4 linked regions of the Homo sapiens genome follow. The protein of the gene in region 3 purifies or fractionates together with the protein of the main gene of each other region. This does not show direct contact. Each region holds a gene or a part of one and is shown on either strand. Other genes may lie near its edges.

Region 1 (3,500 bases), on a different chromosome or scaffold from region 3:
ACTATTGCTTTAAACTTGGTATCAGCCAGGTATTTCTTTGGTCTAACCCTGAAAAAGTACAAATTACACACATCCCCACACTTTCAAAATATGCCAAAGAATTATTTATTAACACAAGACTTACAGATCACAAAAGAGAGTGATACAGAAGAGCTGGAAAAGAAGTCATCAGAATAAGCATGCAGATCAGTATTTGCAGAGGAATATACTAAAGTAAATTTGAAGGCACATTCACACAGAAAATGTCTAAATTGAAAAAAAGACATCAGAAAAGCAGCCAAAAAAAAAAAAAGGTGCTAATTAAAATACAAAGATTTTCAATGTCAAAGAAGAGCTACTTTACAGATAGGTAGGTAGGTAGCTACAGAAGTCTTGCTAACCCTTTGAAAATGTCACAGATGAGGGTCAGCTCTTGCTGCCAATAAAACCATATGATTTTAATGACTGCACGTCAAGATGCTTCAGTGCCGCAGATTAAATTTAGTCAGGGGGAAAAAACAGCCTAGTTGAAATTATATGCAGCAAGGCCTCAAAGGGTTAAATGTAATAATACGCAGAGAAATCAGGCAATGTTATCAGTATTATCTACCTTCCATACAAATGATTATAGCAAGAGTTAAAAGAGACAGTATCCCCTTCAGAGTTAAGTTAGGGCTTCTAAACAGGATTAAGGTCCGCAGATAGCAATCTACCAGGTTTTATTCTCTCTTCATCAGCTCACTTCTTATTTCTCCAACAAGAAGTACCTTTAACCCTCAAACTAAGAGAGCAAGAGATACTGTGGTGAACATGAGGATAAAATAAAACTACATTACTTTGAATAAGTCCTTGCCATTTACCCTCTACAATACATTGATGCAGCAATTTTGCACAACAGCAATATAGCGCATTGGTCAGACATCAACCCCTTTTAACAACCGCTCTAAAGGGATACTGCTCCTTTCTGACAGGAGGTTTACAGATCAATGGGAGGAAACAATCTGCTTTTAAGAATATCCTCCAACTGAAGAGTTAGCTTGAACATTACAGGCTCCAAGCTGAGGATGTTCCAAACATACATAAAAGAACATGAGCACAGAAGATTATTTTAACAGGTCAGTAAGAACAAGCTTGGTCAAAAAAACCAACCTCCAAATAAAATGGGGGAAAAAAAAAGACACCCCAAACCCGGATTAGCCTCATTTCATAAAGACATCTACCTTGGCACTGTGAAAGAATATAGATTCACTTTCAGAAAAATAGTTTCTAATTAATAACTTCAGAGTCCAAAAGGCTAGTATACATGTTATGAGATTTTTAAATAAAAATCCAATATTGTTCAGAAAACAGAGCACTTTGCAACCAACTGCTGTGGTTCAAGCAGCTCATAAAAAAAAAAAACCAACAAAACAAAACCCACAATCACTCTATCAAACAAACAGCAGCAAAAAAATAAGAAAATTTCTGAGGAAAAGTACAAAAAAAAAAAAAAAGACAGAAAGTAGACAGTCAAGGGCACAGGAGCTCTTCAGACCGCCCACTGCATTTGAAAAATACCTTAGCAAGTAGCAACATGAAACATGCAATGTCTCTGCTAACTTGCTCCTGATTCAGCAGCCTGTTTAGCAATACCTACAACATTTCCATAACCAAAGGATGGATGCAATTTTGTTTTCCGACTTGCCAATTTGACATATGCAAAAGCTATAGGACTTTACAATTTCTGCCTGAATCTGTAAACTTGGAAGTGTCTCACGTGTCCCCCCTAGTTAGACAAAACCAAATCCTTCATATGCATAATACATTTTCTAGAATAATACAGTGATACTGAGATATTTCTCATTATTAAAAGGCCACAAAATAGGTTTATCTTTCTATATACATATCAAAAAACAAAACAAAAGAAAAACCAGGACACTTGGGAATCTAGTTTTTATGACAGAAGTTGAACTAGAGAGTAAATTGCTACATGTAAATCTACACAGAATTTAAAGAGGGCTCCCTAATAAGATGTTTTCAAACATTTTATCAGAAAGTTAGCAGTTACCCTATCCTAGCATCTACAGATTTGTTACAACTTAATATTTCCAGTAATAGAGTTAACACTGAAAACAGCTCCTGGATTCCACTGACAACACACACCCTCCTCTTTGCCAGGCCCTGACATACAGAACATTCATATATAAACTCTTTCCCTCTTCTTCTCTTAAAAGGATGTGGCAAACTGCACTACAAGTGGTTAGAAATTTTTACTTTCTTGACCTAACAAGAGTTAATTTCTGTAAATCAAACAGAATACTATACTGGCAGTTGCTGTGTATACCCAAGAGAAGAAAAAAGGAGAGGGAAACACTGATTTTACTCACAGAAATGAAGGAACACTGCCGGCACTGCAAAGGTCTTTATCAAATTTCTGGCAATGTGAGGTTCACTTAGCAGTGACTTTTTATGTGCCTCTAACACCAAGCTGGTGCTAGATTTCAAAAATAAAAATATCTTAGCTACCCAATCTAAGTTCCACAGTAGCCATAGTATCCATATCAAGTATCCATAGAATCAAATTTAACACTGCTTTAAGGAGACTGGCAATAAAGAGGTTGATTATTAGAGATTCATAAAGCTAAAGGGCCAGAGCCTTACTCATGTAAATCAACACCCGCAGAATCATCTTTGAAATCTACAACACCATCACCAGAGCAATCTCACCAATTCCTCACCTGCAGCAGGAGGATGCTGGCCACTAACTGTTGGTAAATCCAAAGAGCTATCAGACATGACATGCTTAAGATCTCCTCCCACATCAGCCAATTTCATGTCAAACTGAACAGAGAGTGCATCTTCAGAGTCCTCCTTGCCAACACTGCTGCCACCAATGGAAGGGAGATCTAAGGACTTCACTGATGCAGAGTCTTCTTTGGTGTGTCTGAAAGCCACTGCTTTCTCTCCCAGGGATTTGTCCGAGTTTATGGAAGAAAATTTACTGGAGTGGAAGTCAGCAAAATCATCATCACTTTTTCCTGAAGGAGTGTTATCTTTCAGGTCTTCAACACCTAGTCCAGACCCTTCCAGAGAAAGTTGTCTGAAGACATCGTACTTGGTAGACGCAGCAGTCGAGTTTTGTCCACCCTTCACTGTGCTGCCCACGTTGCTGGTTAGAGGAACAGGACTGGCTTCCTCTTTAAGGGCATCATATTTGTCATCCGGCTTTTGCTCAGATGAAATAGAGCTATTACTGAAAGCCATAAAATCTGCAAAGTCATCCTGCTCCCCAACAGGTGCTAGACCAGAATATTCCCCAAAAAGGCTGAATTCTCCAAAATCATCAGCCAAACTAGAAGTTTTTGTTGCTGCCAATGCTGTCATAGTAGCAGCAGAACCTGTTGACTGTGGTGTAGAAACTGATTTTGATGTGCTAAACACAGCTGAAAAAGACAATGGTTTCTCGCTGCTGCAATTAACTGAGGAAAACATATCTAGGTCTGCTAAGTTCAGAGGGTTTTTCACTTGTGTTTGTTGTTTCT
Region 2 (3,500 bases), on a different chromosome or scaffold from region 3:
GGTAAGAAATATTAGGCTTCTCTGTATGTGAATAGAAAGAGGAAGTTACAGTAGATAACCCAGTCTTCTGGTCAGCTGGTTGAGGAACAGCTGAAACTTTCAGAGCTTCTTGAGTTAGCTCACTGTCTGGCAGGGCCTGTTGGTAGAAGACAATGGGCTTCTCTCTATATGAGTATAAACTAGAGGATACTGATGGTGTCTCAGTCTTCTGGGCATCTGGTCCAGGAACAGGTGGAACTTTCAGAGCTTCTTCAGGTAAATGACTGTCTGATAGGGTCTGCTGGTAGAAAATGACAGGCTTCCCCCTATTTGAGTAGCTAGTAGAATGTACTGGTAATGTCTCAGTCTTCTGGTCAGCTGGTCCAGGAGCAGCTGAAACTTTCACAACCTCTTTATTTAGAGGACTGTCTAGCAGAGCCTGCCGGTAGAAAGTAATGGGCTTCTCTCCAAGTGCACTGGAACCTAAAGGTCCTGCTGGTATGTCAGTCTTTTTTTCAGTAGGTCCAGAAACAATGGAAACTTTCAGAGCCTCTTCAGGTAGATGACCATCTGGAAAGGCCTGTTTGTAGTTAACAATCGGCTTCTCTCCAAATGAGTAGGAAGTAGAGGTTATGGTTGGTATGCCAGTTGTCTGGTCAGCTGGTCCAGGAGCAGAAGAAACTCTGAGAGCCTCTTCAGGTATTTGACTACCTAGCAATGCCAGTTGGTAGAAACTGCCAGACTTTGCTCTATGTTGTGAGTAGGAAGGAGAGGTTATAGTTGGTGCGCCAGTTGTCTGGCCAACTGGTCCAGGAGCAACTGAAACTTTCAGAGACTCTTCAGGTAGATGACCCTCTGGAAAGGCCTGTTTGTAGATAACAATGGGCTTCTCTCCAAATGAGCTGGAAGGGGAGGTTACAGTTGGTGTGCCAATCGTCTGGTCAACTGGTCCAGGAGCAACTGAAACTTCCAAAGCCTCTTCAGGTAGATGACTATGTGGCAAGACCTGTTGGTAGAAACTACCAGGCTTCTCTGTGTGTGAGTAGAAAGTAGAGGGTAAAGTTGGTATCCCAGTCTTCCGGTCACCTGGTCCAGGAACCGCTGAAACGTTCTTAGCCTCTTCAGTTAGATGACTACCTGGCAACGACTGTTGGTAGAAAATACTCGGCTTCTCTGTATGTTGTGAGTAAGAAGTAGAGGTTACAGTTGGTGTGCCAGTTGTCTGGTCAACTGGTTCAGAGGCAACTGAAATTTTCAGAGCCTCTTCAGTTGGATGACTATGTGGCAAGACCTGTTGGTAGAAAACACCAGGCTTCTCTGTGTGTGAGTAGAAAGTAGAGGGTAAAATTGGTATCACAGTCTTCTGGTCAGCTGGTCCAGGAACCGCTGAAACATTCTTAGCCTCTTCAGTTAGATGACTACTTGGCAACGACTGTTGGTAGAAAATGCTGGGCTTCTCTCTATATTGTGAGTAGGAAGTAGAGGTTACAGCTGGTGTGCCAGTTGTCTGGTCAACTGGTTCAGAGGCAACTGAAATTTTCAGAGCCTCTTCAGTTGGATGATTATCTGGCAAGACCTGTTGGTAGAAAATACCAGGCTTCTCTGTGTGTGAGTAAGAAGCAGAGGTTGGAGTTGGTGTCCCAGTCTTCTGGTCAGCTGGTCCAAGAACAGGTGAAACTTTCTGTGCCTCTTCAGGTATGTGACTACCTGGCAAGGTCTGTTGATAGAAAATACCAGGTTTCTCTCTTTGTGAGTAGAAGGTAGAAAGTACTCTTGGTATCCAAGTCTTCTGGTTACCTGGTCCAGTAACAGCTGAAACTTTCTGAGCCTCTTCAGGTATATGAGTACCTGGCAAGGCCTGCTGGTGGAAAATGCTGGGCTTTTCTCTATGTTGTGAGTAGGAAGTTGAGGTTACAGTTGGTGTGCCAGTCTTCTGGTCTGCTAGTCCAGGAGCTACTGAAATTTTCAGAGCCTCTTTAGGCAGATGACTCTCTGGCAAGGTCTGTTGGTAGAAAATACCAGGCTTCTCTCTTTGTGAGTAGAAAGTAGACGGTACTGCTGGTGTGTCAGTCATCTGGTCAGCTGGTCCAGGGAAGGCTGAAACTTTCAGACTCTCTTCAGGTAGATGACTGTCTGATAACACCTGTGGGTACAAAACACTAGGCTTCTCCCTCTGTGGGTAAGAACTAGACTGTACTGCTGGTATCTCAGTCTTCTGGTCAGCTGGTCCAGGGCCAGTTGAAACTTTCAGAGCCTTTTCAGTTGCATAACTATCTGGCCACTCCTGTTGATAGAAAATACTGGGCTTCTCTCTATGTGAGAAGGAACCTGAAGGTACTGTTGGTGTTGGGACAGTCTTCTGGTCAGTCAGTCCAGGAATAGCAGACATTTTCAGAGATTCTCTAGGTAGATCACTGTCTGGCAACTCTTGCTGGTAGAAAACACTAGATTTCTCGCTATGTGAGTGAGAATTAGAGGACACTGTTGGTGTCCCAGTCTTCTGGGCAGCCAATACAGAAACAGCTGAAACCTTCAGAGCTTCTTCAGGGAAAAGAAAGTCTGGCAGGGTCTGCTGGGAAAAAATAATGGGCTTCTCTCTGTGTGAGTAGAAACTAGATGGTGCTGAGGGTATCCCAGTCTTCTGATCACCTGGTCCAGGAACAATTGATACTTTCAGAGCCTCTTCAGTTAGATGACTATTGGGTAAGGTCTGCTGATAGAAAGCACTGGGCTTTTCTCCAAGTGAAGAGGACGCAGAGGAAGTAGAGGTTACAGCTGGTGTCCCAGTCTTTCCGTCAGCTGGTCCAGAAACAGCTGAAACTTTCAGAGCCTCTTCGGGTAGATGGCTGTCCAGCAAGGCCTGTTGGTAGAAAACAAGGAGCTTCTCTCTGTGTGAGTATGCACTAGAGGGTACTGTTGGTAGGCCAGTCTTCTGGTCAGCTGGTCCAGCAACAGCTGAAACTTTCAGACCCTCTTCAGGTAGATGACTGTCTGCTAAGTCCTGTGGGTACAAAATACTAGGCTTTTCTCTTTGTGAGTAAGAACTAGACTGTACTGCTGGTATCTCAGTCTTCTGGTCAGCTGGTCCAGGAGTGGCTGAAACTTTAGTAAGAGTCTCTTCAGTTTGATGACTGTCTGCGAACTCTTGTTGGTAAAAAATACCAGGCTTCTCTCTATGTGAGTGGGGAGTAGAGAGTACTGTTGCTGTCCCAGTCTTCTGGTCAGCTGGTCCAGACACAGCTGAGACTTTCAGAGCCTGATCAGTTAGATGACCATCTGGCAAGGTCTGTCGATAGAAAAAGAGGAGGTCCTCTACATGTGAGTGGGATGTAGAGGATACTGTAGGTATTCCCGTCTTCTGCTCCACTGGGCCAGGAGCAGCTGAAACTTCCAAAGGCTCTTCGGTTAAGTTACTCTCTGGTAACTCTTGTTGGTAAAAAGTACCAGGCTTCTCTCTATGTGAGTAGGAAGTAGAGGTTAGAGTTGACATGCCAGTTGTCTGGTCAGCTAGTCCAGGAGCA
Region 3 (3,500 bases):
TAATTTGTCAACTACAGGTCAGGTTTTCCTACTACCCTCGCACTGGTTCCTGAAGAGGTTTCTGCACCAGTTAAGTTGTGATTCTCTCTATCTGCCTATCTCCAATTATGGGGGCAGAGATTTGCCCTGTGACCTCGATTCTCTGCTATATACAAGAAAAGTTGTTTTCTCAGGTTGTTCAGTTTTTAATTTGTTATTAGCGTGAAGTGGTAACCTTAAGCTTCTTACATGGCATATTATTATTTTGAGACAGAGTTTCATTCTGTCAGCTGGAGTGCAATGTGGCATGTTCATGGCTCACTGCAGCTTTGACCTCCTAAGCTCAATTGATCCTCCCACCTCAGCCTCCTTAGCTGGGACTATAGGCGTGCACTACCATGCCTGGATAATTTTTTTTTTTTTTTTTCTGGTAGAGACAGGATTTTGCCATGTTGCTCAGGCTGGTCTCGAGCTCCTGGGCTCTGCCCGTTTCAGCATCCCAAAGTGCTGGGATTACAGGTGTGAGCAACCATGCCCAGCCACATACCAGATTCTTGTAGGATTTTTAGTATGAGTTTTTGTCTTGAGGGGCAAAGGAAATTTAAGACTACCATTCCTAGATTTCCTACCTGTTAAAAGTTTGAGAATCACTATTCTAGCAAAATTATATGCAACAAGCACTATAAAGAAGTTGTGACAATTTATAAATTAATTTTAATTTAAAATCTCAGTGTGTACAGATCAATAGTACACACGGAGCAGCTCATGTTTTAGCACACTAGAAGGCAGAAAGGGAGTCGTTTTTTGTTTTCCAAAATCAGATTATGAAGAACAAAATTACTTTAAAATTAGTAATTCAAAATTTGGCATACGTATCACTCTACTTTTTTTTTCCACCTCACAAAATCTTTCTTTTTTTTTTTTAAGTTCCGGGGTACATGTGCAGGATGTGCAGGTTTGTTACATAGGTGAACATGTGCCATGGTGGTTTGCTACACGTATCAACCCATCACCTAGGTATTAAGTCCAGTATGCATTAGCCATTTTTCCTAATGCTCTCCCTACTTCCACCCCACTCTACTTTTTATTTGAAGGTACAGAGTTTCAAGTAGTTCTAAAATGCACAAATGAGTTACCCATGGAACATTTTCTAACTCCTACCTCAAAAACCAGATTATTCCAAAGTATTCGTTATACCTTTGCAGTATGTTTGAAATATTTCATAATAAATGTAACTGCATGAGGTTAAAGGATTTCATACCATTTGATGTTTTAAAACAGGCATTTCAAAAGGAGGTCCTTTTGCTTACAGCTCCAAACTCACTGGACATTTACAGCTTAGAGTATGGTTAAAGTATGGAGACTAAAATGCTTGTTCCTATTAATATATACTTACTTAGGAAAACCAGTCAACTTTTCCTTTAGATATGTAGATGTGATTTGACTACAATGAAGAAAAGTATTTCAAGAAATACTAAATTTGTTCTTTGAATAAGGGAGTGCTAAACAGCTATTACTTTTCTACAGAATCAAAATTTAGTAAAATTAATTTTTCTCATTGCATTATAATTGGGCTAAAAATTAATCAACAAAATATGGCTCATTTAAAATTTGCCTGGGTTTTTCTTTCTTTATATAGAAGTAGGGGAATATTTAAATGTTTATTTGAATATGTGTATGTTCAGCAAATGCTAAAAATTTTATCTTTCTGAGTGACATGAACAAATGACTGCCTGTTGGAAGATGCACTAAACAAAAGCGAGCCTATAGTCTGGTGTTTGCAACTGTCTGAACCATTCAGGAAGAAATCTGGCTGAAACTTCTAGTGAGTTTAATTCATGTCTACCCAGAAAGGCAGCTGCTTGGAGATAAGGCTTTAATGTTTCTCTTGTCCAAGTTTGAATTCACTTTTATCAAAACTAAAAAAATTCTATGGTAGCACACAGTTGTTTTAATATTTTTAAAATTAACCTAGGCTTTTTTTCTCAAATGAAAAATTTTAGCCCATTCATAATGTTCTCTTTTGAAAATAAAATTTCATTCTTCTAGGAAAACAAATTGGAAATAGGAGGTTTTAAAAAGGTCATGCTATACAAACTAGTCATTTCATGTACACAAAGAGTCTAAGGTAATAATTTGAAAATGTTGTTAAAGATTTATGTGAGAAATATGCTTTGTATGTTCATAGGGTGCAATATTTTGCAGACTCTAAAGTCATGCTTTAGTGAATATCTAAAGACCAGGAAAACGTTCATGGTATATGTTGCAGAAAAGCATTGAATAATTAACCATAAAGTGTGGTCCGAATTTTGGAAAATAAAAATCCACATGTGGACATCTGAAACAAAATACATCAAAATAATGGGTTGTATTATTTCTGCTACCAAACTTTCTATACTTTTCAGATTTTCCATGAGGATGTATTTTCATTTAGGTCAAGAAAAATGTACTTTTACTCACTGATGACTATATACCTCCTCTCTTAGAATTGCTCACACAAACCACAACCAAACTGAATAAACTTTGGTCTCAAACGTACTTTTTCTATTCTATATTATTTACCTTCAGCATATATCACAAGGCAGGAAAAATAAATTGTTGCCTACTTCCCCTTCAAAAGTGTTTATGTCTTAACTCTTAGATTGATTCCAGGTCACTTGGGAATGATTTCAACATAGTGTGTACGTGTGTGTGTGTGTGTGTGTGTGTTTGTATGTATGTATGTACATACGTACATACATGTGTTTAAGGGCTGGTAATGTCTCCCTTTAGAATAATTTATTGTTTTTAAAACTCTCTCAAATACATATGTACACACACACACACACACACACTTATTTTGCCTAAGTTACACTTCTTTTTCATCTATATAAGAATATAGATACTTGTGCTTCTAAGCAAAGAGCATTACCTATTACATAAGGTTCTCAGATAACTGACATGGCAGGCTCACTCATTAAGGGAAATTCCTCCCTTCCATTATACATGGTAGTGGCAAAAGCTTAGCCAGCAGATGGTTATGGTTCTCTTGATCATAAAGAAATGTTCCCTAGTTTCAATGAGGTAGACTGGTCTATAAGGAAAATAGACCAGAAGATCCATGTTTTGATACTAGAAATAATGCATGTAACATTCAAAGAAGGATCTTGAGGGCAGGAACCAAGACATCTAAAAATTTAAAAGAGAACCCACAGGGTTCGGCCTATAGTAGAAACTGAAGAAATATTTAAAGAATGAATTACATTTTTATTAAGCAATTCTATTTTTCCATTGTCTTGAAGTACAAAGTGTTGGTGTGGCAAAAGCCTTTGATATCAAAAAAATTGTGGAAATGATTATGCTCCCCTGATATTCTATAAATAGTTCACTCCTTTTTCATGGATATTTACAATATTAATTGGCAGAAGTAGGAATTATCTTGTGGGTACATGCTACTGTATGGCATTTTTGACCCAGCAACCATGTCCTAGTCATGCTGTGTTCCTGGGCTCCTAATTCAGTGGTGTTTACCTCATGAACCA
Region 4 (3,500 bases), on a different chromosome or scaffold from region 3:
CAGTGGGAAAGATTTTTTTTTTCAGGCTTACAATGAGTATTTTCAGGCCAATGGGCAGTTAACACAAGAATATACCAAGAATGAGACAGCAATACCCATAAGCCACAATATCGTTTTTGGTAGGTTGACAGTTTGATTCAACTGGGTATTCAGCATCGGTGAGTGAGAAAGGAATTAGGACAGACACCAAGGCTCTTATGATATTCAAATAATTTTAAGAACACTGTCAGAGATAAGAAGAAAGATGCCCTAAAATATATTGCCTTATTGAGACTTACTTCAAAGCAATATACCCTTCAAAATATCAGATAAAAAGACAATCTTGTCATCGACTGTGAAAGTTAGGAGGAATCTTACAAACTGCCTAATCCAGTTCTTCCATTTTACAGACAAGAGAACTGAGGCTGAGATCATACTGATAGTTTTCCAGCCTGAAATTCAGATGTCTTGACTTTCAGTCTAGGGCTCCTTCTTACACAATGCCATCTCTTAATTATTTACTGAGCATAACATAATATCTTCTGTTTCAAATATGTAATTTTAGGTTAAATACTGATTTATGCTACTTACTTCTTATTCAAGTTTTTATCTTATTCTTGGCTAAATTGTGGCTGAAACTGGGAATGTTACATACTTTAAAAATATTCTAATTTAGTGTACTTGATTGGTCAGAAATTGACTCCCTTGACATATTTGCTCATGACAAGCTTGCTCACGGCCTTTAAATAGAGAGTAAAATGGAATGGCTGAATAGCCCTCAAAACCAACGTATGTCTAGGGATCATCTACCTAAGGTAGATTCTACAGCTGGGCACTAGTAATTTCATAGAAAAAAATATTTTTTAGAATTCATAGAAATCTTTTTGATTACTGAAAACTAAATTGTAATAATCAAATTGTCATCCCCATGACTTATTAAAATAATTTTACAATAATATACAACAAAGCTACCATAGAATTTGTAGTTTACATATAGAACACATTGGTCAGCATGTTCTTGGGTCTAAATGAAATACAAGAAAATTAAAATATTTTATACGAATGATGTTTTAAATTTATTAACATGACGATATGCCTTTGTTACACAAAACTTGCTAGAGCAGAGTATTTTATTTTTTTCTTGCACGTTTTAAATATAGATGGACCAGTGAAATCAATATCAGCATTTACATGACATTACCATGCAGAAACACTTGATAACCGAAAGACATATAGATTGGTAGAAAGAACATCTCAGACAGGTTTTTTTTATGTCTTCAAAGGTTTCACCAGGGTGTGGTACAGATGAAAAGAAGTGGTGTTAATGACCTACCTGCACCGATAATAAAGCAAATAGAATGATTATATACATTAAGATCAGCTTGATTAAAAATAAATTTTATATGCAGGTAAATTGATCATTAAAATGAACCCAGTTTAACTCTTCTCGTGTGTTGTTTTAAGGTAGGTCACTGAAACGCAGAGATAAAATCAGATGGGGAAAATTAAAAGCAAAGAAAAAAATAGCAAAACAAGTGGGTTAAGCCATGGATTCTCAACAAACACTGAACTAAATGTGCAAAAGTGCTTGAAATTTCCACCTGACAGCAATGTTGTTAAGTCAGTTGGCAAAAAAAAGTGTAGGAAAAAAACTAACCTCTCAAATACCAACATTGTATCTGCATGATCGATCAGACATTCTGTTTACTGAGAGAACAGAGGTTAGAAATTATGAAATATCTGAAAATATCATACCTCAAAATTAAAATACAATTGTGGCAGTTTTATACACTTTGTTCCCTTTCCTCATTGATGAGGCATGGGATGAAAGCAGAAGTTGCAGCAGTGCCCCTACCCTAGGCTCACAAATATAGTACACCACAATAATTAGCTGGAAACAACTTCTTTTTAACGGTTACAAAACAAAACAAATGTAAACCCTCATTTAAATATGAATACCTCTATATTGTTTCCAAAAATCAAGCCATTTTTGACTTTGCAAAGTATAAGTATTTATCTAAACCAATGTTCTTTTTAGTTTGCTTATTTTCCTTTAAAAAGTTTATGATGAGGACTATTAGAGAAAATTTAAAATTTGTCACTTTCATTAATCATGTTCTATTAAAATACTGGCTAAAATCCTTAAGGAACAGTTAAGGTTTAGAAAACTTAGAACTCTTCTCTAATACCTACAGAAATGCTGGTACCAAGTGAGAGAATCTGGGTGATGATCCATATCATTAGTTTTTCCTGCTGAATGAGACACGTTTGTCACACTACACAGGCTGGTCACTTCATTACTCAAGGAGAGGAGGATATAAAAGGAGGGAAAGGGAACTAGAACCTCTGATCTACAGCCTTCCAAATTTCTGGGTCTAGCTGTACTGTATTAGTCTACCAAAATTTATTGCCAGAATAGTGAATTCCAAGAAAGTTAGTCTTAATTTGTATAAATTTCCTTGGTGATAAGACAGTCTATCTTCAAAAATTACCAAGAGTTTTGGCAAAACCAAGTCTGAGCTACTCAAAGAAATAATAATTATTAGAAAGTTTATCTTCAAGCCATTGACCAACAACAATATTGGCAATAACTACTGAAAGCAACACTTATCCTTCCCTTCAAATATCACGTAGCCATAACACTGCCCATCTGAAACACCAACAAAATAAAATGGAGCACTGTTTAGAGAAAACCAATGAAATTGGAAAAGGAAGAAATGGATATAGGAGAGGAGAAAGACAACCCAAAGAGAAGTAAGAAAGTGGTCTAGTACTGTGTTATGGCACAGACAATGCTTGCTTAGCGGTGCCTTGTTACATAGGTGGATGCAGAGTGCGCACACGGGATGATGGCAATAAAGACCTCACTCAGTCGTTGGAATGAAGGAACTAGGTAACTGCTTCAACAAGGACGGTCTCAGCTCTACCTTATCTCTCAACAGAGTGCAAACACTGAGTGTGAGCTCAGATGTCATCTTGTTCCTCTTTAAAATTCACCAAATTCTTTTGCACATTTTTCTGTTATAGAGACACGGATATCTTCTTCTTCATAGTCATCAAAGTTGCTGGTATCTCCAGAGCCTCTAAACTTTGGTATGAATGGAGCTTCAACCTATAATTGAGAGGGAGAGAAAAATAAGAAAAAGGAAAAAAAAATTCCTGAGAGTTTCCAAACACCAAGAAAAATAAATTCCCACTGTTATTACACGGTGAAATCCTTAGATGCCATTAGGTTCCTAAAATATAATAGTGCTAGAAGAAGCAGCAAGCAGTAGGTTAGCTATTAACCTCAACATTTTGATTCAAGGAAGTATGCAGGTCAACAAAATACTTAAGAAATTTCTGGGATAAGAGGAGAAGCCAAGATGGCCGAATAGGAACAGGTACGGTCTACAGCTCCCAGCGTGAGGGACACAGAAGACGGGTGATTTCTGCATTTCCATCTGAGGTACCAGGTTCATCTCACTAGGGAGTGCCAGACAGTGGGCGCAGGTCAGTGGGTGCACGCACCGTGTGCGAGC

Evidence for each region. Proteins that work in one complex are often made in the same cells at the same time.
Region 1: the proteins of MLF1 (region 3) and SYNRG purify together in Homo sapiens (affinity purification with mass spectrometry; 4 studies listed by BioGRID and IntAct, with this or other methods). This does not show direct contact.
Region 2: the proteins of MLF1 (region 3) and ALMS1 purify together in Homo sapiens (affinity purification with mass spectrometry; 4 studies listed by BioGRID and IntAct, with this or other methods). This does not show direct contact.
Region 4: the proteins of MLF1 (region 3) and PRKACB purify together in Homo sapiens (affinity purification with mass spectrometry; 3 studies listed by BioGRID and IntAct, with this or other methods). This does not show direct contact.

Annotation. Positions count from the first base shown.
Region 1 is NC_000017.11:37,550,419-37,553,918, forward strand, and holds part of SYNRG (synergin gamma), read right to left. Parts: coding exon 2,697-3,500; intron 1-2,696. UniProt on the Homo sapiens protein: Plays a role in endocytosis and/or membrane trafficking at the trans-Golgi network (TGN). May act by linking the adapter protein complex AP-1 to other proteins. Component of clathrin-coated vesicles.
Region 2 is NC_000002.12:73,448,336-73,451,835, reverse strand, and holds part of ALMS1 (centrosome-associated protein ALMS1), read right to left. Parts: coding exon 1-3,500. UniProt on the Homo sapiens protein: Involved in PCM1-dependent intracellular transport. Required, directly or indirectly, for the localization of NCAPD2 to the proximal ends of centrioles.
Region 3 is NC_000003.12:158,577,694-158,581,193, reverse strand, and holds part of MLF1 (myeloid leukemia factor 1), read right to left. Parts: intron 1-3,500. UniProt on the Homo sapiens protein: Involved in lineage commitment of primary hemopoietic progenitors by restricting erythroid formation and enhancing myeloid formation.
Region 4 is NC_000001.11:84,234,771-84,238,270, reverse strand, and holds part of PRKACB (cAMP-dependent protein kinase catalytic subunit beta), read right to left. Parts: intron 3,092-3,500; coding exon 2,966-3,091; 3' UTR 1-2,965. UniProt on the Homo sapiens protein: Mediates cAMP-dependent signaling triggered by receptor binding to GPCRs.